Linked DNA regions of Homo sapiens. The protein of the gene in region 3 purifies or fractionates together with the protein of the main gene of each other region. This does not show direct contact. Each region holds a gene or a part of one and is shown on either strand. Other genes may lie near its edges. The genes, in order: TANGO6, SAV1, PUDP, HAUS5, ASCC3, PALD1 and SHKBP1.

What was found.
Region 1: the proteins of PUDP (region 3) and TANGO6 purify together in Homo sapiens (affinity purification with mass spectrometry; one large-scale study listed by BioGRID and IntAct). This does not show direct contact.
Region 2: the proteins of PUDP (region 3) and SAV1 purify together in Homo sapiens (affinity purification with mass spectrometry; one large-scale study listed by BioGRID and IntAct). This does not show direct contact.
Region 4: the proteins of PUDP (region 3) and HAUS5 purify together in Homo sapiens (affinity purification with mass spectrometry; one large-scale study listed by BioGRID and IntAct). This does not show direct contact.
Region 5: the proteins of PUDP (region 3) and ASCC3 purify together in Homo sapiens (affinity purification with mass spectrometry; one large-scale study listed by BioGRID and IntAct). This does not show direct contact.
Region 6: the proteins of PUDP (region 3) and PALD1 purify together in Homo sapiens (affinity purification with mass spectrometry; one large-scale study listed by BioGRID and IntAct). This does not show direct contact.
Region 7: the proteins of PUDP (region 3) and SHKBP1 purify together in Homo sapiens (affinity purification with mass spectrometry; one large-scale study listed by BioGRID and IntAct). This does not show direct contact.

The regions. Positions count from the first base shown.
Region 1 is NC_000016.10:68,850,031-68,853,530, reverse strand, and holds part of TANGO6 (transport and Golgi organization protein 6 homolog), read right to left. Parts: intron 1-3,500.
Region 2 is NC_000014.9:50,658,307-50,661,806, forward strand, and holds part of SAV1 (protein salvador homolog 1), read right to left. Parts: intron 1-3,500. UniProt on the Homo sapiens protein: Regulator of STK3/MST2 and STK4/MST1 in the Hippo signaling pathway which plays a pivotal role in organ size control and tumor suppression by restricting proliferation and promoting apoptosis.
Region 3 is NC_000023.11:7,141,654-7,145,153, reverse strand, and holds part of PUDP (pseudouridine-5'-phosphatase), read left to right. Parts: intron 1-3,500. UniProt on the Homo sapiens protein: Dephosphorylates pseudouridine 5'-phosphate, a potential intermediate in rRNA degradation. Pseudouridine is then excreted intact in urine.
Region 4 is NC_000019.10:35,619,235-35,622,734, forward strand, and holds part of HAUS5 (HAUS augmin-like complex subunit 5), read left to right. Parts: intron 1-189; coding exon 190-270; intron 271-378; coding exon 379-524; intron 525-777; coding exon 778-889; intron 890-960; coding exon 961-1,093; intron 1,094-1,188; coding exon of another isoform or gene 1,189-1,205; exon of another isoform or gene 1,206-1,253; intron 1,254-3,366; coding exon 3,367-3,499; intron 3,500-3,500.
Region 5 is NC_000006.12:100,647,330-100,650,829, reverse strand, and holds part of ASCC3 (activating signal cointegrator 1 complex subunit 3), read left to right. Parts: intron 1-115; coding exon 116-292; intron 293-3,378; coding exon 3,379-3,500. UniProt on the Homo sapiens protein: ATPase involved both in DNA repair and rescue of stalled ribosomes. 3'-5' DNA helicase involved in repair of alkylated DNA: promotes DNA unwinding to generate single-stranded substrate needed for ALKBH3, enabling ALKBH3 to process alkylated N3-methylcytosine (3mC) within double-stranded regions.
Region 6 is NC_000010.11:70,541,267-70,544,766, forward strand, and holds part of PALD1 (paladin), read left to right. Parts: intron 1-196; coding exon 197-268; intron 269-3,500.
Region 7 is NC_000019.10:40,579,873-40,583,372, reverse strand, and holds part of SHKBP1 (SH3KBP1-binding protein 1), read right to left. Parts: intron 3,050-3,500; coding exon 2,888-3,049; intron 2,808-2,887; coding exon 2,717-2,807; intron 2,628-2,716; coding exon 2,437-2,627; intron 1,023-2,436; coding exon 907-1,022; intron 1-906.

The DNA.
Region 1 (3,500 bases), on a different chromosome or scaffold from region 3:
TCTTGTTTATATTAAATTCTAGAATAGGCAAAACTAATCTACGGGTTAAAAAACCTAGAACCAGTTATCTCTAGGGGAGCAGGAGTGGGAAATGATTGTGAAAGGGCAGAAGGGAACTTTCTGGGATAATAGTAATGATGCATATCTGTTTTTTCTTTAGGTTTCTTTTTTTTTTCCTTTTCTCACCTGGAAGTAACAATGTGTATCTTGACAGGGGTTTCAATGACAAAAGTATATGCTTTTTTTTTTTTTTTAGACAGAGTCTCGCTCTGTCACCCAGGCTAGAGTGCAGTGGTGTGATCTCAGATCACTGCAAACCCTGTCTCCTGGGTTCAAGTGATTCTCATGCCTCAGCCAAGTACATGCATTTTTAAAACTCACTGAATGATGTATGTATTATTTGTGCATTTCATTGTATATAAATTTTACCTAAAACAAATGAACTACAAAAAACCCAAATAAATATTAAACTCTAGTTAATGTTACAATGCTGAAGTGTTTATGGCTAAAATGTACTGATATCTGCAACTTACTTTGAACGCATCAAAAAAAGAGAAAACATGAGTTGATGCATGGATAAATGGATAGAAATGTGATCAAGCAAATATAATAAAATGTGAATTGTGGAATCTAAATGATGTGTATAAGGGTGTTCGCCATATAATTCTTTCAACTTTTCTTTTTTTCTTTTTCTTTTTGAGACGGGGGTCTCGCTCTGTCACCCAGGCTGGGGTGCAGTGATGCAATCACAATTCACTGTACCTTTGATTCTTGGGCTCAAGCAGTCCTCCCATCTCAGCCTCTCCAGTAGCTGGGACCACAGTTGCATACCACCCCACCTGACTAATTTTTTCATCTTTTGTAGAGATGTGGGGGTCTCACTATGTTGCCCAGGCTGGTCTTGACCTCCTGGGCTCAAGCAATCCTCCCGCCTCAGCCTCCCCAAAGTGTTGGGATTACAGGCATGAGCTACTGCACCTGGCCACGAGCTTTTCTATTTGTTTAGAAAACCATAATAAAATTTTGAAAATATATATGGACATCAGCCAGGTCAAATAAACTAAATTTTTTTTTTGAAAATATAAATACAAGCAACAGACCTCAAAACTAAAGCTAATATACCTTGTAAGAAACAAATTAGAAGGAATCAAAATGTAATTGATAATAACTATGTCCAATACTGCATGATTTATAATAGTGTAAAATTAGAAATGCATGTCCCATAACAGGTGTTTGTTGAGTAAATTATGGTCTAATTCTATCTAACATACTATATGTATGTGAAGTACTTATTTTGTTTATTGTTTATTGTCTTTCTACCAACTAGAATCAAAGCACCTAGAAAACAGGGGTATTGATTTGTTTTGTTCACTGCTGTATTCTCTTTGCCTGGAACAAAGCCTGACAAGTAAAAGCTGTTTAATAAATTGTTGTTGAATGAATAAACAATGGAATATTTTGTAGCCATTAAATGCTGAACATTATTTAATGACATGTTCATAATATATTCGAATGTGAACAAAGAGTATAAAACATTACATGAGCAAAAGATACAGACAGTTTATAGGAAAAGAAATGCAAATGGCCCTTAAACATGAACATATGATCAATCTTGCTCATAATAAGAGAAAAGTAAATTAAAGTTATACTGAAATATCACTTTCCATCTATCGAACTGGCTAAAATCCAAAAGTTTTATAACACATTCTGTAGCAAGTCTGTGAGGAAACACACACTCTCATACATTGTTGGTAGGAACTAAAATGGTACATCCCCAAGGACAGAAATTTGGCAATATCTAGCAAAATTACATAGGCATTTCCCTTTGGCCCAGCAATCCCACTTTTAGGAATCTATCCTATAGATACACAGGCAAACAATGCAAAATTACGTATTTACAAGACTATTCATTGCAGTACTTCTTAAATTAGCAAAAGACTTGAAAACAACCCAAATGTCCACTAGTAGAGAACTGGTTGAATAAACTATGCAGCTATAAAAGAGAAAACGGAAGATTTATACGTACCATCATGTACCGATTGCTAAGACACTAAATTTAAAAAGTAAGATGCAGGCCGGGCGTGGTGGCTCATGCCTGTAATCCCAGCACTTTGGGAGGCCGAGGTGGGCGGATCACAAGGTCAGGAGTTCGAGGCCAGCCTGACCAACATGGTGAAACCCTGTCTCTACTAAAAATAAAAAAATTAGCCAGGTGTGGTGGCAGGCACCTGTAATCCCAGTTACTCGGGAGGCTGAGGCAGGAGAATCGCTTGAACCTGGGAGACGGAGGTTGCAGTGAGCCGAGATTGCGCCACTGCACTCCAGCCTGGGAGACAGAGCGAGACTCCATCTCAAAAATAAAAATAAAATTAAAATTAAAAGACGCAGAAAAAAATATATATAGTATGCTACCTTTTGTGTAAAAATGGGAATGAATAGGAAATCACAGATTATTTGCATGTCTTTTCAAAAAAGAAGCAATTTAAGAATAAATTTAAAGCTAATTAAAATAAGTCATCTACAGAGAGAGGGAGAGAGCAGAGGAGGAAACATGGATAACTGTATCTAATTTTATTAGTTTTAGAGCACAACAGATGTTTTTCATAGTTAAAAAAATTAAATCAAAAAGAAAATGCAAAACAATTCCTAAAAATGAAAAACAAACAAATGAACCAATGAACCAAATTCTGCGCTCTATGTCAAAGGTCACCAAACTATGATCTGCAGTCCAAATCTGGCCCACCAACTGTTTTCATGAATAAGGTTTTACTGGAACACAGTTATGCCCATTTACATATAGTCTATGGCTGCTTTTGAGATACAGTGACAGAGTTGAGTAGTTACAACAGAGACCATATGGGCCGCAAAGCTCAAAATATTTACTATCTGGTCCTTCAGAGAAAAAGTTTACTAACTCCTACTCTATATTAAGTTAGCAGCATAACCACACAGAAAATTATTTTAAGAGACTTGAAATAAAGAATTTTGTATATCCTGAGAACAAAAACCAAACAAAAACCCCTTAAACAGTGGGTTTGTAGTGGTAATGTTGGATTTGTTCTTTGAAAAGATTATAGACCTGGATGAGTATGTATTGTGTGATTACACATTTTATATAATGTGTGATTATATATTTATATATGTATGGGTATGTATACATGCACATATATAATACATTAATTTCATTAGGAACCAATATTCTCAGATAAAAGAAATACAAATATAAAAATATAAAATATAGGATAAAAGAACAGCTAGAGGCTGGACGCAGTGGCTCACACCTGTAATCCCAGCACTTTGGGAGGCTGACGTGGGTGGATCACGAGGTCAGGAGTTCGAGACCAGACTGGTCAACATAGTGAAACCCCATCTCTACCAAAAATACAAAAATTAGCCGGGCTTGGTGGCACATGCCTGTAGTCCCAGCTACTTGGGAGGCTGAGGCAGGATAATCGCTTGAACCTGGGAGGCGGAGGCTGTGGTGAGCGGAGATTGAGCCA
Region 2 (3,500 bases), on a different chromosome or scaffold from region 3:
GACAGAACTAAAATTTAAGCGCAAAACAAAGGAATTCAGTCTGCCTTTAGTATTCCAACTAAAGACTTCCTGTTAACAGCAGGATTCCTTTCTTTGGAACATACAGTAAGTGCGTGACTGGTATGCGGCCAAGAACATTAAAGGTCAAATTTTCTAATCTGAAAGTTCTACAGCTAAACGTAGAACTTTCTAGGCTCTAAAACTTTCTGAGATTATACAACTTGTTTTTGTGCTTCTACTAAATACAATAAGCTGAATTTAACCCTTGACACAAGGTGTTTCCTGAAAATCTAATAACTAATTGACAGGAATTACTATTGCCATTAAGTCATTACAAAACAAATTTTCCAACCTTTTTATGCTTATGACAATCAAAATTCAATGTTTCTGAAAATAGATCTATCGCACAAACCTATCCTATCCTCCTACAAACTTACTTTCTCCTTTCTATTCATTCAAATTCCTTGAACCTTATTCAGCATAAATCCTAAAAATATGTTTTAAGTCTTCTCAAGGTGAATTCAAGAAACTTTCAGCTACTGTCTCATATTCAGATTTTTCCCTTGTGGAAGAGGCAGTTATTAGGCTTTTCTGTTTGGCATGTAATTGGTTATTAATCTTTCCCTGCAACTTTAGAGATTCCTTCAAAAAAAGTACTACTTTTTTCTACAAGGTAAAACATTAAATCTATATTGCCCTGATAAAAATTAATCTTATCAAATGAAGTCTCTCAAGCTCTCAAGCAGTGTATCAACTGCTGTAAAGAATTTTTTTTTTTTTTTTTTTTTGGTTGGGAGAGATACCTTATTACCTGAGATTCTTCAACTACCTGCAACCTTCTTTAAACCTAACGCAATCTGATATAAAAGAGCCTGGGATGAGACTTCGAAGGCAGAAGTCTACTGTCTCATTAAAACAAGGTCTTGGCTATTCCATGAAATCAAATCTTATTTCAGTGCATGTGTGTTCCAATAAAACTACTGTATTGCAGGAGGCAAGTCTATCTGGCCTATGGGTGTAGCTTGCTGACTCCTGCTGAAGCCTCCCTCATAAAATTAAAAACACCCTCAAGATTAAAATTACGGTAGGGGCCCGAATTTTGATAAAATATTTTCCTTCTCTTTTTCCACCTCCATGTATGACTGCTTGCAAAGTCATTTCAACAAATGGCAGTCACTAATAATTGTCTTCCTGTGGCAGCCCCTGGGCAGGCTGCCCATAAGATTAACAAACCTGTTTCTTTTAAAGAACAATAATCCAGACTGGGTGCTGCGGCACATGCCTGTAATCCCAGCACTTTGGGAGGCCAAGGCAGGCAGATTGCTTGAGCTTGGGAGTTTGACCAGCCTGGGCAACACTGAAATTCAGTCTCTACTAAAAATACAAAAAATTAGCCAGGTGTGGTGGTGCATGCCTGTAGTCCCAGCTACTCAGGAGGCTGAGGTGGGAGGATTGCTTGAGCCCGAGGTCGAGGCTGCAGTGAGCTGTGATCATGCTACTGCACTACAGCCCGGGCAACAGAGCAAGATCCTGTCTCAAAAAAGAAAATAGAAGAGAAGAACAAGAAAACAATGATCCTAGATCACACAGACCCCCTTGATAGTTTCCAGAATTTGGACTGGCCAAACAGGCCAGGCCACTTTGATCACTGGTGATCTCACCTCCTGCAAACTCTTCTGCTAAGCTATAGGTTTAAACAGTAACCTGCCATTTTTTCCCAGCTTTCTTTCCATAGTAACTGGCAGTCACAAACACTACTGTAAAACCTAAGACTGGTCTTCGAGATATTTTTCAGACTTTGCTTACAAGTGGACCAACTGACACCAAATGGACCAGTGTTCCATGAACTCAACCAAGGAACTGACTTGGTCTTGTGACTCCCCAATTTCCCAGCAACTGATTCAGCACATGAAGACAGCATTGATAACCCTATGATCTCATACCAGTCCAATCACCAGCACCCATCCCCTAGCCCCCTGCCTGCCAAATCATCTTTAAATATCTTAGCTTCTCCAGTCTTGGCGGTGATGACTCTGAGAAACATTTCCCATCCTCCTTACTCAGCTGCCTTGCAATAATTAAACTCTTTCTTCTTTACAGTATCTGCTGTCTCAGTGTTCTGCTCTATTCGGATAGCAGACAAGAGCCCAGTCAGGTGGTAACATTGTTTTATAGCATTTTTTGGATACATAATTATTTGCACATGTTTATGGGGTACATGTGATATTGTGATACATGCAAAGAGTATGAAATAATCAAGTCAGGGTATTTAGGGTATCCATCACCGTGAGTATTTATCATTTCTATGTGTTGGGAACATTTCAAGTCCTCTCTTTTAGCTATTTCAAAATGTTAACTGTAGTTACCCTACTCTGCTATCAAACCTTAGAACTTATTCCATCTAACTTTATGTTTGGACCCATTAACCTACCTCTCTTTACCTCCCCTCCCATCCTTCCCAACCTCTGCTATCATTCTATCTCCATGAAATCAATGTGTTTCGCTCCCACATGTGAGTAAGAACATGAGACACTTCTCTTTCTGTGCCTGATTTCCCTTAATATAATGACCTCCAGTTCCATTCAAGCTGCTGCAAATGACATGATAAACATGGGAGTGCAGGTATTTCTTTGATATACTGATTTCTTTTCCTTTAGATAGATACCCAGCAGTGGAACTGCCGGATCATATGGTAGTTCTGTTTTCGGTTTTCTGAGAAATTTCCAAACTGTTTTTCATAGTGCCTGTCCTAATTATTGTAACATTCCCACCAACAGTCTGTAACAGTTGCCTTTTCTTCACACTCTCACCAGTAGTATATTTTTTTGTCTTTTTAACAATAGCCATTCTGACTGGGGTAAGACACCTCACTGTGGTTTTCACTTACATTTCCTTGACGATTAGTGATGTTGCACATTTTTTCACATACCTTTTGGCCATTTGTATGTCTTCTTTTGAGAAACGTCTATTCATGTCCTTTGCCCACTTTTTAATGGGGTTGTTTTTCTTACTGTTGGCTTCCTTGCATATTCTGGATATTAGTCCCTTGCTGGATGAATCTTTTGCAAACACTTTCTCCTATTCAATATGTTGTCTCTTCATTCTGTTGTTTCCTTTACTGTGCAGACGCCTTTTGGTTTAATATAGTCCCATATGTCTATTTGTTTTTGTTGCCTGTGCTTTTGAGGTCTTAGCCATAAAATCTTTGTTAGATCGATGTCCTGAAGTGTTTCCCCTACATTTTCTTCTAGTACTTTTATAATTTCAGGTCTTAAGTCTTTAATCCATCTCAAGTTGAATTTGCATATGGTGAGACAAGGGTCAGATTTCATTCTTCTGCATGTGGATATCCAATTTTCCCAGCATCGTTTATTGAAGAAAGTGTCCTTTTCCCAATGCACGTTCTTGGTGCTTTTGTAAAAAAATCAGTTGGCTGTAAATATGTGGATTTATTTCTGCATTACCTATTTTTGTTCCATTGGTCTATGTGTCTTTCTATA
Region 3 (3,500 bases):
TAATTTTGATACTAGGTCCTCAAAATCTGTGTGTGTTTTATACATACAACACATCTTAGTTTGAACTAGCCTCATTTCAGGCACTCTGTAGCCTCATTTGGTGGGTGGCTACTGGCTTGGACAGCATGGGTCTAGGTCTTTGTGGAGCAACCCAAGATGTCTGTTGATAATGGCTATGCTGGGAGGGTCAGGCAGAGGGTGGGTGTTAAGAATATTCAGAATTAGGAGTTTTGGTGTATGTAAAATGTGGTATGTGTAAAATGTGTTTTCTTGGAGTCTAATACAGAATTATTTAAAATCCTTTTAAAATCAAAGGAAAATAAGCTTATTTCCAGTTTCTTAAATATCGTAAAATAATAAGGTAGATCTGCGAAGGGTAATAAGAACATTTGCAGTGTTGACCATAATATACCATATCTTTATAAATCCAGATTGCAGGATTTTAATGAGTGACTTCTACTTCACCTTTAGTAAAATGAAGACCTCTTCTGTGCCTTTTTGCACTCCCGTAGCTTCCTCCTTGCCAAATAATAGCACTTGAGACTATAAGTGCCTGCCTCACTGTCTGGGGCCCAGGAGACCCTAAAAGGTCATGGAGGTAGGGTCTCTGTGGGGATTACCAAGCCCAGTACTGATGGGATTGTGGGCTGCCTGAGACAGTTGACAGTCATGTCCACTGTGTGGCCAAAATTCCACAGACATAGCGTGAGTGTGTTTTGCGCTGTCATTCTTTGTTAACTTCATGTAGGCTGTTTCTTTAGACACCAGAACATCTATATAGCTGATGACAAAAATAGATTTTTCTTACGTAATATTAGCGCATGCCCTAGGTGGATTGTCAGAAGAATCTATGTATGTTGTCATTTGACCCCATGAAATACGTCTGAGGTTTAAAAGTGCAGCTGACAAGCTTTTCAGCCTCAGTCGGTTCTTACTACTTGATGTTATCAAGTCATTCATTCCAAGTGGGATTTCTAAGAGTTTTGGCACATTTCTGAGGAAGGTGGAGCAAAGTGAAGGATCATTCTGCATGCTTCCATAGGTGGTTATTGTTTAACCCCAGAACGTGCAGTGATCCTAGTTGGAATGAGATCGTAATCACAATCTCCCCTCCTTCCATCATTTGTAATGGGTCTTGCTCTGGATGTCAAAGCAACTCTGGTGGTAGGTTCACATTCTTTCTTTGCCCTGTCTTCCCTGGAGGCTGACAGTGTACCCTTGGGTTTTACCCTTGCTAGGTGAAATGTAGGTTCTCTTCCACGTTTGCAAAGGAGATGGCTGAGGGTGGAGGCCAGTGTGAGGGCTTGGGACAGAGATGAACCCTTATCTCAGGGGCCATGATTGGCCTTTCACTACAGGGTGATCAATGAGTAATCTGTTGTTTCTGGAAACTGAAAAGGCTTCTGGAATATAGAAAGCACAAGACACGTGTGTTCCTATTAAGGGTCCGAAGAGATTTAGAGTAAGATGCTATATTGTATGTTGGAGAAACAGCATCAGATTATAGATTTAGCTCCGTTTGGTTCTGTTTTCTAATTGACCTGAACCATGCCAACCTTAAGTTCTTGTAGTAAGTGGTTGGTTGTCCACTGCAGCTGTTTCTGTTTCTAGAATAATTGAGAAGGGGGTAAAACTTAAATTGCAAAATTCTGCAGATAAATAATAAGAGTTTTGTCCAGCTGGCAACACAAATATTCAGCAGATTCTAGGCATGCAGGTGTAAAATATCCTTTTCTTTTTTCTAGCTCTCTCTTTCAAATAAAAGCAATATGGTTTTATTTAGAATCTTTAAGTAAACTGGATACAGGCATGTGTGAGAACTATTGTGGGTTCAGTTCCAGACCATCACAGTAAAGCAAACATCGCAATAAAATTAGTCACATGAAGTTTTTGGTTTCCCAGTACACATAAGGTTAGGTTTATACTATACTGTATTCTATTAGGTGTACAATAGCATTATGTCTAAAAAATGTACATAACCTTAAATACATTTTATTGCTTTAAAAAAAAAAGTGCTAGGGATCATGTCATCCTTCAGTGAGTTGTAATTCTTTTGCTGGTGGAAGGTGTTGTCTTGATATTGACTGTTGACCAGAGTAGTGGTTGCTGAAGGTTGGGGTGGCTGTGGCAATTTTAAAAAATAAAACAGCAATGAAGTTTGCCACATCACTTGATTCTTTCTTTTACAAAAAAATTCTCTTTTGGCGAGGCATGGTGGCTCATGCCTATAATCCCAGCACTTTGGGAGGCAGAGGCAGGCAGATCACTTGAGGTCAGGAGTTCGAGACCAGTCTGGCCAACATGGCAAAACCCCATCTCTACCAAAAATACACACACAAAAATTAGCCAGGCATGATGGTGCACACATGTAGTCCCAGCTACTCAGGAGGCTGAGGCCCGAGAATCACTTGAACCCGGGAGGCTGAGGTTGCAGTGAGCCGAGATCCCACCACTGCACTCCAGCCTGGACGACAGAGTAAGACTCTGTCTCAAAAAAAAAAAAAAAAAAAAATTGGAGTCCTCTCAAACTCTGCTGCTGCTGCTTTACCAACTAAGTTTATGTTAATATAGTGAATCCTTTGTTGTCACTTCAACAATGTTCAACAACATCTTCACCAGAAATAGATTTTTATCTCCAGAAACCACTTTCTTTTCGCGTCCCTAAGAAGCAGTGTCTATTCAGTTCAGGTTTCATCCTGAGATTGCAGCAACTCAGTCAAATCTTCAGGCTTCACTTCTAATTCTAGTTCTCTTGGTATTTCCATCACATTCTGCAGTTACTTCCTCTGCTGAAGTCTTGAACCCCTCAAAGTCATCCATGAGGATTGGAATCAACTCCTTACAAACTCCTGTTAACATTGATATTTTCATCTTTTCCCATGGATCATGAATGTTGTGAATGGCATCTGGAATGCTAAATCCTTTCCTGAAGGTTTTCCATTTACTTTGCCTAGATGCATCAGAGGAATCACTATCTATGGCATCTATAACCTTAGGAAATGCATATCCTAAGTAATAAGACTTGAAAGTTGAAGTTACTCCTCAATCCATGGGCTGCAGAGTAGATGTCGTGTTAGCAGGCCTGAAAATAACACGAATCTCCTTGTACATCTCCATCAGAGCTCTTGGGTGACCAGGTACGTTGTCAGTGGGCAGAAATATTTTGAAAGAAATATTTGTTTTTGAGCAGTAATTCTTAATAGTGGGCTTAAAATATTCGGTAAACCATGCTGTAAACAGATGTGCTGTCATCCAAGCTTTGCTGTTCCATTTACAAAGCCCAGGAAGAGAAGATTCAGCATCATTTTTAAGAGCACTAGGATTTTCAGAATTGTAAATGAGCACTGGCTTCAAGTTAAAGTCACCATCTGCATTAGCCACTAACACAAAAGTCCGCCTGTCCTTTAAAGCTTTCAAGCCAGACACTGACTTCTCCTCTCTAGCTATGAACGTCATGGGTGGCATTTTCTTCCAATAGAAGGCTGTTTTGTCTACATTGA
Region 4 (3,500 bases), on a different chromosome or scaffold from region 3:
TCCAGCCTGGGTGACAGAGCAAGATGCTATCACTTAAAAAAAAAGAATGCTGTCACTTAAAAATTAAGAACTGGGCCTCCTAGGCAAGAGCCCAGGTGAGACTCCCAGGCAGAAGCAGGACCTAAGCAGAGAGGCACACTGAGGCTGGGAGCTGGGAGGAGTGGGTCTCAGGGTATCCTGGTTCCTCAGGAGGAGACCCAGGAACAGGTCCGCCTGCTCATCAAGGGAAACTCGGCCAGCAAGACCCGCCTGTGCCGGAGCCCGGGGGAGGTGAGATGGGAGTTGGGGTGAGGTCTGGGTAGGGCTGGATCTGCCAGGATGGGGCTGGGTGGACTTGTGATGTTGTGATGCCCCACCCACCCCTCCCCTTCCCCACAGGTGCTAGCTCTGGTCCAGCGAAAGGTGGTCCCTACATTTGAGGCAGTGGCACCACAGAGCCGGGAGCTGCTGCGCTGTCTGGAGGAGGAAGTCCGGCATTTGCCCCACATTCTGTTGGGCACGCTGCTGCGGCACAGGCCGGGAGAGTGAGACTGGGGCTGCCCCACCCCTGCCCTGCATCCCCTGCCATGGGTGACTGTCACTCCCTGAACCTCCTCAAAAAAGATAACCCCAGACCCCCAGTGTTCCCAGGCTGCCAGACCTCACCCTTGGGTCAGCAGCCCTGGTCTTGGCATCCTAGTCCCCAGACCCACCTTGAAGTTCCTGGGCCCCCAGAGCCTCCAGAACCCAAGGCCTCCTCTCAGTCCCCACCCAACCCAGACTTCTCCCCGCCCGTAGGTTGAAGCCCCTGCCCACGGTCCTCCCATCCATCCACCAGCTGCACCCCGCGTCCCCAAGGGGCTCCAGCTTCATAGCGCTGAGCCACAAGCTGGGGCTGCCTCCAGGGAAGGTGAGTGCCCGTCTCCTGTGACTTGTCTCCCCAGCCCCGCCCCAGGTGACCGTCCTTCCCTCCTCCTCCAGGCCTCGGAGCTGCTCCTGCCGGCGGCTGCCTCTCTTCGCCAGGACCTTCTGCTCCTGCAGGACCAGCGGAGCCTCTGGTGCTGGGATCTACTCCACATGAAGACCAGCCTGCCGCCAGGCCTTCCCACCCAGGGTAGGTCTGCCCTGCCACCCCATCCAGCCTCCCCGCCCATTCCCACTACCAGCAGCCTCCACGAGTCCTTACCAGCAACCCCGTTGTTTACGCAGTGCCCATTGTGTGCTAAGGGCTTTAAACATTCTCCCTTGTTTCATCTGCACGGCAGTCCCATAAGGTAAGTGCTGCTGTTCTCTCCATTCTACAGAGAAGGGAACTGAGACGCAGAGGTTAGTAGGTTGCCCAAATGGCAAAGCTGGAATTTGAATCCAGGTGGTCTGAAATGGGTCTGTGCTCCCAACCACTAAGCTACACTGCCGTCGACTTTCCACGTGTTCATTCATCACCGTCACATAGTATACCTCAGCAGTTCAAAGCCTGGGAATCCTCTCTGCCGTCTCTTCCTAGCTGTGTGGCCTCCCCGTGCCTTAGCTTCCTCCTCAGTGGAGTAAGCATGAAGCAATATCTTACCGAGGTGCTGGGCAGATTGAGGCAGGGGACCCACACAGGGCACTGAACACTGCCTGCTATGCAGTAAGCACCCTGTGTCTCCAATGTGATTAGCATCATTGTCTGTGTACACACACAGTCTCTTGGAGTCATGACGATGAGGAAAGGGACTTTTAAGAACCCCAGTTTACAGATGAGGAAACTGAAGGTTAGAGAAGTCATTCATTCCTGGATTCACTCACCAAATACTGGGTGTCTACCAGGTGCCAGCCCAGATGGCTTGATGGGGAGTGAGGAGAAAGGTCCCCACCCCAGGGGTTTCCCCAGATGGAAGTAAAGAGTAAAGAATGAAAGGATAAATACATGGAAGAGGAGAATTGATGAGAAATGAACCGGCAGTGCCAGCAGCACTGGAGGAAGAGACTGTTCAAGCCTCTGAGTTTGGGGCTCCCTGCCCTCCACTTCTTCACAAGGGGAGGGAACAGTGTGCAGGAGCAATGAGAGCAGCCCCAGACCCCACACGGCCTCTGCCCACCTCAGCCTCTGCCTACCACGCCCTCTGCCCACCTCATGTGTTTTTTGTTTTTGCTTTTGTTTTTTTGAGACAAGGTCTCATTCTGTCACTCAGGCTGGAGTGCAGTGGTGCCATCCTGGCTTACTGCAGCCTCAACCTCCTGGGCTCAAGCCATCCTCCTGCCTCAGCCTCCCGAGTAGCTGGGACCACAGGCATGCACCCCACACCCAGCTAATTTTATATTTCTTATAATCATGGGCATCTTGAACTGTACACATCTATCATGGAACTCCTGGTTCTCTCTACTCCAAAAAACAATTTTGTTCCTCTTCTTGGTTTCCTTCCTTGTTAAATTATCTCACCCTCCTCATCCAAGTGCTGCACCCAGAAACCCAGGAGTCATCCTGAATTTCTCCATCACCCTAATCCCCCCACCCTCACCAGCTTCAGCCTCTCAGCAAGCCCTAAGGGTCCCATCCCCAGAGTTCTCCCATCGGTCCCCTGCCCCAGTAATTCCACCTGACAGCAGACGGAGCTGAACAAAGAGCCAGTGTCGTGATCAAGGTCACAGGGCAGGGATGGGATGGGGTCAGGATTCAGGCCCAGCTTGTCTGATCACGCTGCTCGTCTGCACTTGCTGAGCTGGGCCTGTTCTGTGCACATGGAGAGGTAGGCCCAGTCCCAGTCCCAGAGGAAAGCACCGCTAGGGTGAAGCTAGAGCAGGCGGAGGAGGAAGCCTTGGAGCGAGAGTGTTGGAGGGGCCTCCAGGAGGAAAGATACTCTCTACTGTGGGCCCTGGGAATCGGCCAGGCTTTGCCACATCATGAAACTCAAATACCTGCTGAAGGGCTTGGACTCTGCCTTGGGGGCACTGGAGAACCTTGGAGGGTTCTAGACAGGAGGGAGAGCATCAAATTTAGGCTTCAGGAAGATCACTGTGGTGTAGTGCGGAGGGTGAACCAGAGCAGGAGACTGAGGCCTGGAGCAGAGGAGAGGAAGAAACGCTCAGGAGACTGAGCGGACAGGCCATGGAGATTGATGGGCTCTCACGGGGAGGGAGGAAGGCATCCAGAAGGAGGCCTGGATGGGGCTGGGGGTGGTGGACTGCCCTTGAGATGAGGATCTGGGAGGAGGGACAGGTCCTCATCTCAAGGGCAGTCCCTCAGAAGGGGACTTCCAGGCTGGGAAGAGAAGGAGACAGACTCATCATTGGTTTGCGGGAGCTGCTGAGGTCAAGACTAGGGGACTGGAGAATTGGGGACTCATTGCTGTAAGGTACCAGCGAGCCAGAGGACTCAAAGCTGCCTCCTGGCTTTCTCACCCTCAGAGCTGCTGCAGATCCAGGCATCCCAGGAAAAACAGCAGAAAGAGAACCTGGGGCAGGCTCTGAAGAGGCTGGAGAAGCTACTGAAACAGGCACTGGAGCGAATCCCTGAGCTGCAGGGGATCGTGGGGGACTGG
Region 5 (3,500 bases), on a different chromosome or scaffold from region 3:
ATGCTGCATTATAGTAAATGGAAACTCTTTAAAAACATGCAATGTATTTAATTTCAATGTGAAAAATTTAAATAAATCAGCCCCAAAATTCCAATAAATACATTGATTCTTCTAGGTCAGAGAAGAGGAAATAGAGGAGTTAGATACCTTATTAAGCAATTTTTGTGAACTCTCCACTCCTGGAGGTGTAGAGAATAGTTATGGGAAAATAAACATCTTACTTCAAACTTATATCAGCCGAGGAGAAATGGACAGTTTCTCCCTTATATCAGATTCTGCATATGTTGCACAGGTAAGTATCTTATTCCCTTCCAGTTTTCTCTTCCTTGAATATATTTAGAGGACCAAGGTGTTAATTCATGCTGTGCTATGAATGCATTGCTTTGTGACATGCTACCAAACCACCATTTTACTTAGAACTGTTTCTGCTAATTTGTAAATATTTTATGTAATCTATGCTCATAAAACAGGACTGGGGATGAGATTTGGTGACTGATAGGGCTTTTTTTGGTGATGTTGATGTTTCTTACAAAGTTTTAAAATGATACCTGATTTTTTTCTACTTTAAATGATGAATTTCATTTCTTTTACTTATAAAGTAAAAGAATATAAAGTACTTATAAAGAGAAAAGTTAAAGAATATTGCAAGCATAAAGAAAAGATTGTGGAACTTTTTTAGATTTTTACCAAATATTAGAAATAATAATATTTTTAATCATTAAACAAGGCGTAGTAAACATATTTCCTACCATACGTTCAGTGTGATGTCTCTGGTTTTTACAAAAGTAATCTCTCCTCTCTACTGTTGAAACTTAAACATTGAGGACAGAAAGAAAATTATTCCCTAAACTACAGCTCATTTAATTTATAACTTTTAAAAAATACCATGGTATAAACTGTTCAAATATTTGTGTTTTTATATTCAAGCCCTTATGTGAAGTAAAGTAGGTTATATTTTACCCTATTTATCCTTCAAATGAAAGATTTCCCTTCTAGACATACTTTTTTAAAAAAATTATTTACCTGTCAAGGCTTTTTAATTTTATTTTATTGAGTACTTCCTTTTATAAATTAAGAAGAAATTAAAGCTTAATTTTATTTTAAATATGGAAATGATTCTGCTGTTATATTTGTAATTTTGTTCAAAGAAAGACTAAATATAGAAAAAGAATGTTTGTGTTAAATATATCATTATTAATAGCCATGAGTACTCAGGAGTCCTTTAAACATGGAATATTTACAAACACAAACCAAGACATATTGGTAAACATTTTGAATGCATGTAGTAATTTAATCAATGTAACCAAGATACCAGGTTATATAATTCATAAATTATATAAAGTTAATATAGATGTAGTGAAAATATTTATATATTCTTTAAACCCTATAGCTTCTATAGGAATAATTTTCTAATCTCCTTTGTTTTATCTGTTTTTCTGTAAAGTAATGTAATATTGTCATTTTATATTTTCTAATGATTTTATATTGAAATAGTTAATCATTTAAATAAAAGGTAAAGTTTTACTGGGTTCTGGATGAATAATCTGGCAACATTTCTGCTTGCTTCAAGATTATGAAGATATTATCAGAGACTGACATAAGAATTGCTTACAATGTAAAACTTTAATTCTCTTCATGATTGGTATCCAGGAAGTCAACTTCTGATTAAGGATATCTCAAAGCATCCCTGTTTTTTCTTAAACAGCCATTATGGATTTAGCATCCCTGAATGCATCAGATAAATTATACTTTATTACATTTTAAGTTTAAGCTATCAGTAATTGAACAACTACTCTCTCAACTCTGTAAAATGATATTTTCTTCTATATTTTTTAAACTTTCTCTCCTCAGCCCCTAAGGTAAACCTATAGCTCAAATATTCTAGGATTTTATTTAAAGGCCTATGCTTAACTTTTCTAGACTGTACATGTTATAGACTTATTATTTTGAACCAATTTATATCATTCTAGATTAACATGTCCTGTTTGTATCTTGTCATATGGAATTTCTCCTACTTCTTTTAGCATTGAGGGGATAACTGTAGATCCTGAAATATTAAAATGACATACTTTCAAAGGCAGGAAAATTAGCCTGATAGTTTTTTGTAAGAACAAGTGGGAATGAGGTAGGAAAACCTATTTGGTAGATACAGTAATCAAAATTTTATTTATTATTCTCTGGGCCTTATAAAGACCCATTCAGTCATTTTTAATGGATATCAGAACTGTCCTCATACTTCTATCTACCATTTTGTACTTTAATTTCTAATACTGAAACAAAATAGTCAAATTTATCAAAAGACAGCGCATATCTTATATAAAATGTGAAATGAAAGCCTTTAACTCATCTGTCATTTTTGACTTCATAATTTTAGGCTGGATTGTTTGTCTGCCATTTGAAATCTTTTCAGTTTTGTATCTCTTGTTTGGATTTTAACCAGACTGAACATTCTTTATTTTCAAATACAGATGTTACTGGATTTTGGAAGGTATAAGTTCATTTAAAAAACAATCTTTAATAAAACAATCTGCAAAGTTAATGATAGAGGAGTGGAGGCAAAATAAATGGGAGCTAGCTGTAGAAATGTGAAGAAAAAGACTACATTCATTATAACTTTCTATATGTCTATTAATAAAGTTATCCTCAGACCACTGAGTCTAGAATCTCAGTTATATTTGGAGTCCTTTAGTCCTGGCTTTGAGTAGATGCTCTGACACCAACTAGCAGTGTGACCTTGGTCAAATTTTTTACCTCTTTAAGCCCTAGTATATTCATCTATAAAATCATAATATTAATATCAATTAAATGCAATTTTTGTAAAAGTTAAATGAGGCAATATATGTAAAGCAAGTTAACACATTGTTTGGTTTATAGGAAGCCATTTGTATGGCCCTTTCATATGAGTAGCTACACTAATCAGTATTTCATTTGTCACCCTTCTCTCATTATTTTTTTTCCCTATCAGGATCCCAGTCTTCCTTAATCCTCTAAATAGCCTTGTAAATTTAATCATTCCACTATTCACCAAGAGGCGTCCTTGTCTCTTATAGTCAGATGCCTTAACAGCCTCCTAAATATTTTGCATGCCTTTTGTCTCTTCCTACTTCATTCCTGTTTAGAAGGTAGAGCTTTCTAAGAACTTGGAAATAAGGCTTCCCCTCTGAGAGTAAGCAAGTAGCATCCACATATAAAGGATAGGATTATTCTTATGTAGAAATAATAAGATAATTAGGATTATATGAGAAAAGATATTGCCCCACAATTCAAGGATGCAGCTTGACTTGCACTTCTTTTCAGACTGAGTTTGAATAATAGATTTATTGACAAATTTAAAAGCACATTGGGTATAACCACCAATCTCCTCCTATAATTTTTTAGAATGCAGCTAGAATTGTCCGTGCTCTTTTTGAAATTGCTCTGAGGAAACGTTGGCCTACCATGACCTACAGGCTCCTGAATCTTAGTAAAGTCATTGACAAGAGGCTTTGGGGTTGGGCTAG
Region 6 (3,500 bases), on a different chromosome or scaffold from region 3:
TTAGAGATTTGCCTGGAGGAGGGTAGACACTCAGGTCCCAGGCACACTGGCTCCACAGGAGGGTGTGAGGGGCAGAGACAGCCGGGTGTGGTCCCAGAGCCCCTTCCATCAGTCTTGGGCAGCCCCCAAGTCCTCCCCAGCAAGGGGCTCCTGGCGTTGGGAGGGGGCTTCTGTCTCAGCAGCTGTCTTCCCTCAGGGCTTCCCCGAGGTGGGTGAGGAGGAGCTCGTGAGTGTGCCTGATGCCAAGTTCACTAAGGGTGAATTTCAGGTGAGCATGCCCTGCGGGGTCCCTGAGGCACCTTGGGATGGGAGGAGGAGGAGGACTCCTGCTTGCCGGTCTAGGGGTCCTCAAAGCACGTCCCAATGCAGTCACGTCTGCCACCTCATCATATCAGTGCTTCCCTGTTCCCATTTTATAGATGAGCCCAGCAAGGCATGGGACAGCTTGGCTCTGAGGCCCTGGCAGACGGCCGGCTATGGAGATGTGGGCTGGACCCCTCCCTGCCCGGCCTTGCTGTTGGGCTGCTGTGTGCCTTGGGGAGGTCACTGGCCACCGTCTTGTCTGGGTAATGTTGATAACAACCTCCCAGCACCTTCAACCCAGCTGTGGTTGGTGACCTTGTGTGGGTCCCCAGCCTACTTTGCCCTGCCTGTTCCTCTATTTCAGATTAGGGCACTGGATGGCCAGCCACAAACATTCCAGATTTAGTCATCCATGTATTGTGCACCTGCCACATGCCACAGGCCATCTTCTCAGGCATCCCGAGAGTCGTGGCAACGTCCCTCGGAGTTGGCCCATGGCTGACCCACAGTCAGCAGCACAGTTGGCTCGTGTCTTACTGGTTAACTTCGCCACTTGCCCCTCCCCTGCCCTCGCCCCAGTCCTGAGGCCCTGACCGCCATGCAGCACCTCACACTTGCTAAGCTCTTGCAGCCTTTGCATATGCGGTGCCTTCTCCCTTCCTTCTTCTGGCTGATTCTCTGATTCTTTCCTTTTTCCTTTTCTTTATGTGGTAAAATATGCATAACATAAAATGTACCATTTCAACCATTTTTAAATGTACAGTTCAGTGGTGTTAAGTACATTCACGTTGTTGTGCAACTGTTGCCACAACCCATCTAACTCCTTCATCTTGCAAAACAGAACTCTGCTCTCCTATTCAGTAATGATTCCCCATCCTCCCTCCCAGCAGCCCCTGTTCTACTTTCTGTCTCAATGGATGTGACTACTCTAGGAATCTTCTATGAGTGGAATCGTACAGTATTTGTGTTTTATGACTAGTTTATTTCACTGAGCATAATGTTCTCAAGGTTTACCCACATTGTAATATGTGTCAGAATTTCTTTCCTTTTAGAGGCTGAATAATATCCCATTGTATGGATAGACCACATTTTGTTTCTCCATTCCTCCATCAAGGGACACTATTTGCTTCCACCTTTTGGCTGTCATGAGTAATGCTGCTATGAAATGCATAGTGCACGTAGCTGAGTCCCTGCTTTCAGTTCTTTTGGGCATATACTCAGGAGTGGAATTGCTGGATCCTATCGTAATTCTGTTTACTTTTTTGAGGAACCACCATGCTGTTTGCCGCAGTATATGCACCATTTTACATTCCCACCAGCAACACACAAAGGTTCTGATATTTCCACATCCTCACCAACACTTGATTTCTTTTTTCTGTTTTTTTTAGAGATGGGAGTTCACCGTGTTGGCCAGGCTGGTCTCGAACTCCTGACCTCAGATGATCCACCCGCCTCGGCCTCCCAAAGTGCTGGGAGCCACTGTGCCCAGCCGTTTTTTTTTTTTTTTTTTGGATAATAGCCATCCTGCTGGGTATGAAGTGGTATATTGTGGCTTTGATTTGCATTTCTCTAATGATTAGTGATGTTCAATATCTTTTTATGTGTTTATTGGCCACTTGTATATCTTCTTTGGAGAAATGTCTGTTCAAGTCCTTTGTCCATTTTTGAATTGGATTGTTGTTGAGTTTTGGTTCTTTATATATTCTGGAAACTAATCACTTATAAGAGAGGTGATATGTAAATATGTTCTCTATTCTGTGGGCTGACTTTTTACTCATTGATAGTGTCATTTGATGCACAAAAGTTTTTAATTTTGATGTAGTTTGTCTGTTTTTTCTTTTGTTGCCTGTGCCCTTGGTGCTATATCCAAGAAATCATTGCCAACTCCAATGTCATGAAGCTTCTCCCTTGTGTTTTATCCTAAGACTTTTATAGTTTTTAACTCTTAGGTTTAGGTCTTTGATCCATTTTGAGTTAGTTTTTTTTATATGGTGTGAGGTGAGGGTTATCTAAGTTTATTCTTTTGCATGTGGATATCTGGTTTTTCCAGCACCGTTAGTTCAAGAGTCTGTCTTTCCCCATTGAAGGGTCTTGGCACCCTTGTTGAAAGCCAGTTGACCATATGTATAAGGGTTTTATTTTCCAGCTGAGTTTAGTCTTTGCATCGGTGCCTTGAATGTGATGGTCAGGCCTCTCCTTCTTCACACCAGGCCCCGTGCTGGGAGCTGTGTGTACTCCCTCTGTCCCCTTTCCCAGCTCCCAGGAGGTAGGTGCTTTTACTGCTCCCAGTTTATAGATGAGAAAATGAGGCCTGGGGAGACAAGTTTATTACCCTAGGGCCACATCAGAGAGGTGGGGCTGGGGTATAAGCCAGGCTGTAGACCTCAGAGCCTGTGTTCCAAAGTTACATCATATGACCTGAAGACACCCCTGTACACCCTATCCTCACCCACCCCCAGATAATCTAGACCAGCTTCCTTTGCAATTAGTTCAGCATTTGCTGAGCCCACAGTCTGTTGGGGAGAAAGGATCAATAGAGCGTGAAGAGGCCCAGAGCAGACACTGGTTCTAAGGGCCAAGAGTGCAGCTGAGGGAGCCTGAGAGGACTTCATAGAGGAGGCAGCATTTGAGTGCCTTTGGGGAAGATGAGTGAGTATCCTTGGTGAGGAGGGGAGTGTCTGGAGGGATCAAGTGTGCAAAGGAGGGATTCTGGAAAGGGCAGGAACTATGTAAGGCTGTGATTTGTCAGAAGGGAAGCAGGCAGGACTGAGGGGTGGGGGCCCATATTGTGAAGGCCCTGGAGGTTTGCACTATGTGTTTGACCTTGACCGTGAGGCCAGGAGGGAGGCAGAGGAGGTTGTGATCAGGCTCTCAGTCTGGGGGCCCCAGCAGGCAGTTATATGTGGACTGGGGAGTGGAGGGAGAGGCAGGAGCTGAGTGAGGAGGGGCTGCAGGGTGAGCAGGAGCAGCCCAGTCCTCATTGGTAGGTCTTGAGGGCTCCTGGATGTGGGGTGAGGAGGGCACCTAGGATGACCTCGAGTTTCTGGCTTTGCAGTAGTGACAGCTGTCGATGTGGAATTCAGGGGAGGAACAGCTGCAGCAGAGGCCAGGAGTTGGGTTCCCTGTGAAGAGCTGCAGCCCTCTGTCTGAGGTGGCCCCCAGAGGACGCAGTTCCCTGCACCCTCCTGGGGACCTGC
Region 7 (3,500 bases), on a different chromosome or scaffold from region 3:
AGCCGGGAGCCCTTCCATTCCTTTCCTTCCGTGGTGACCCCTCACAGAGGATGGGCCCTCTCCTCCACCTCCAGAACCCACCCACTGCTCCCCAGCCCCGTCCACCCCAGGCCTGCCTTTGTCCCTGTCTTGTTCCCTCCCTTCCTCCCTTTGATGCATCTGTCTGTCTGACTCTTGGCCTCTCCTGGACTCTGTACTTTTTAAAGTTTTAATTTTTTAAATTTTTTGTAGAGACAGAGTCTTATTATGTTTCCCAGGCTGGCGTCAAACTCCTGGGCTCAAGCCATCCTCTTGCCTCGGCCTCCCAAAGTGCTGGGATTACGGGCGGGAGTCACTGCACCCGGCCTCCACTATGTACTTCTGACATGACTCTAATTCATCTCCATTTATCTCTCTGAGTTCCCCCATCTGCCACAGTGGTTCAGTCTGGTTTGACTCTGTCTACCCTTCTCTGTCACCTCTTTCTGATTTTCTATTTCTATTTGCCTGGTTTTCTGCCTCTCTGTCTCTTTCTCTGCCTCTGTCTGTCTTTCTCCCAAAGCCATCCTCCCACCTCAGCCTCCCAAAGTGCTGGGATTACAAGTGTGAGCCACCGAGCCAAGCCAGTTCTTGTCTTCTACAGCATCCCCCCTAACCTGCTCTCTCACCCAGTCCCAAGACAATCCTCCCTACTCCTTTTCAAACCCATTCATGCTTCATGTGGGCTCTGCAGCACCTCCTCCAGGAAGGCTTCCCTGGTGCTCCTTAGGCCTTTATCACAGACATCCCCAGGCTCTGGCCAGCTGCTGGTTCTCTGGCTTCCTCCAGGCTTAGGGGGTGGGGGTGGGGGCAGACGTGAACCCCTTCCTGGGTCTGTACAGTCTGGAAAACTGGGAAGGGGGCAGCCAGGCTGGCCAGAACTCTGACCTGCCAGTGCTTGGTGACGGCATTCCACACCCCGATGCGCCCTGTGTGGCTTGTAGCAATGAGCTGGTTCCCGACGAAGAACAAGGCCTCCACAGGCACCCCCAGATGAAAGACCCCTGCAGTGGGCAAAAAGGGCTCAGCTGGAACCCTGCCTCATGGAGGAGGAGAGGTGGGAGGAAGAACTCCAAGGACCAGAGGGTTCAGTGGGACCACAGAATCCTTGAAGGATAGAAGATTCCATCAGGGGCTGGGCACAGTGGCTCACACCTGTAATCCCAACACTTTGAGAGGCTCAGGTGGGCGGATCATTTGAGGCCAGGAGTTTGAGACCAGCCTGGCCAACATGATGAAACTCCATCTCTACTAAAAAATATAAAAATTAGCTGAGTGTGGTAGCACACAACTGTAGCCCCAGCTACTTGGGAGGTTGAGGAAGGAGAATTGCGTGACCCCAGGAGGCAGAGGTTGCAGTGAGCCGAGATCATACCACTGTACTCCAATCTGGGCAACAGAGAATGACTCCATTTCAAAAAAAAAAAAAGTGAAGATTCCAGCAGGAATTAGAGAAGATAAAATGGGCCAGAAGATTTCTGATGGGGTATGGGATTCTAAAACGGTCTGGAATTCTAACAGCACTGAGATTTGCAATAAGGCAAAAAAACCTCCACTGGTGGCAGGGGATTCTTACGAGGGCTGAGATTTATTTGGGGACAGATTAATAAGTCCGAGATTTGTTGCTGTGGCTTTGAGACAGGGTCTTGCTCTGTTGTCCAGGCTGGAGTGCAGTGGTGCAATCATGGCTTACATAGCTCACGGCAGCCTCGAACTCCTGGCCTCAAGCAATCCTCCTGCCATGGCCTCCCAAAGTGCTGGAACTACAGATGTGAGTTACTGTGCCCAGCCATAAGTCAGAGATTTCTTTTTTTGTTTTTTTTTTTTTTTTGAGATGGTGTCTCACTCTGTCCACTCTGTCGCTCAGGCTGGAATGCAGTGGTGCGATCTCAGCTCACTGCAACATCTGCCTCCCAGGTTCCAGTGATTCTCCTGCCTTAACCTCCTGAGTAGCTGGGATTACAGGCACGTGCCACCACACCCAGCTAATTTTTTTGTATTTTTGAAATAAAGACTGGGTTTCACCCTGTTGGCCAAGGGGGTCTCGAACTCCTGACCTCAAGTGATCTGCCCGCCTCAGCCTCCCAAAGTGCTGGGATTACAAGCATGAGCCACCGCACCGGGCCAAGTCAGACATTTCTCATGGCCACACAGAATAGCGCATTCTAACAAAACCAAGAGATCTAACAGGGCAGGGAATTCTGATGGAGGGAGAATTGTATGTGGGTGGATTTTTCTAGGAAGCCAGGGAATTCTAACAGGATACAGAATTCTGAAGGGCTGGAGCATTCTAATGACACAAACAGATCTAATAGAGCAGAGAATTCTTATGGGTTTGAGGATTTTATGGGGTGGGTCATTTTAACAGGCAGTAGAATTTAAAGGACAGAGGGTTCTGGAAAAGGCTTGGGGTCATACCTATCTCGGAGCCACCGCCTTCCGCCTGCAGAGCCCATAGCAGGATCTCGCTGCCGGTGGCTGCTGCCACCATCTTGTCATGTTCACCCAAAGCCCCACCATGCACCCGGGCTGTGAGCGCCAGTCGTTCGATGGGCCAGTCCAGGCGGGGGCTGGAAAACACCAGCTGCCAGCCAGAGGCTTCCTTCAACCTGTAGGATCGAGGGGACATCACCAACCCTCACCGCATGCCCTTCCCATCAACAGGGCTGGGACCTCCTGCCACTCCCTCCCCAAGCACCTGTAGCAGACTAGAAACTGGGTATAGGCCACAGCGATCCAATTATGGTGTCCACACACCAGGCGCACCATCCCCGGCTCCTCAGGTTGTCCTTGAGGGGAAGAGTAGGGATCAGAAGAGGGTCACAGGGACCCCACAGCTGCCCCAACCTTCCACGAGATAGAAACGTACCTGAGGGTGAGGGAGGGGTTTTCTCATCCAGCATTCGGCCCAGCAGCCCTGCATTGCCAAGGTTGGGGGGCATCGTGTTGCTCCGTCGGACAGGGGCTGGCCGTCCTCCTAGCTGCTGAGGCCCCACTAGGCTGTGCCGGTTCCGCCGCTTCACTGGGAACACTACAGTGAGAATAAGAGGTAGAGTAACAGTCATTGTAATCGTGGCTGTCACACAGCAAGCACTTAAAATATGACGGTGATTGATTTCCCCATGTGTGGGACATAGTCTCCGGGTGAAGATTTTAAGTGGTGCAGTGACACAGCATGAAATGACACTGAACCACATAGCAAGTTACTTCCCTTTCAGTTCCCTTGAGCCCAGCACAGAGGAAGACTGAGTTTAGTGCTGCTGTGATATTAATGAATCTGCAGTATTACCTAATTTTCCGTTTTTTTTTTTTTTTTTTTTTTTGAGTTGGAGTTTCGCTCGTTGCACAGGCTGGAGTGCAATGGCACAATCTTGGCTCACTGCAACCTCTGCCTCCTGGGTTCAAGTGATTCTCCTGCCTCAGCCTCCCAAGTAGCTGAGATTACAAGCACCCACCACGACACATGGCTAATCTTTTATATT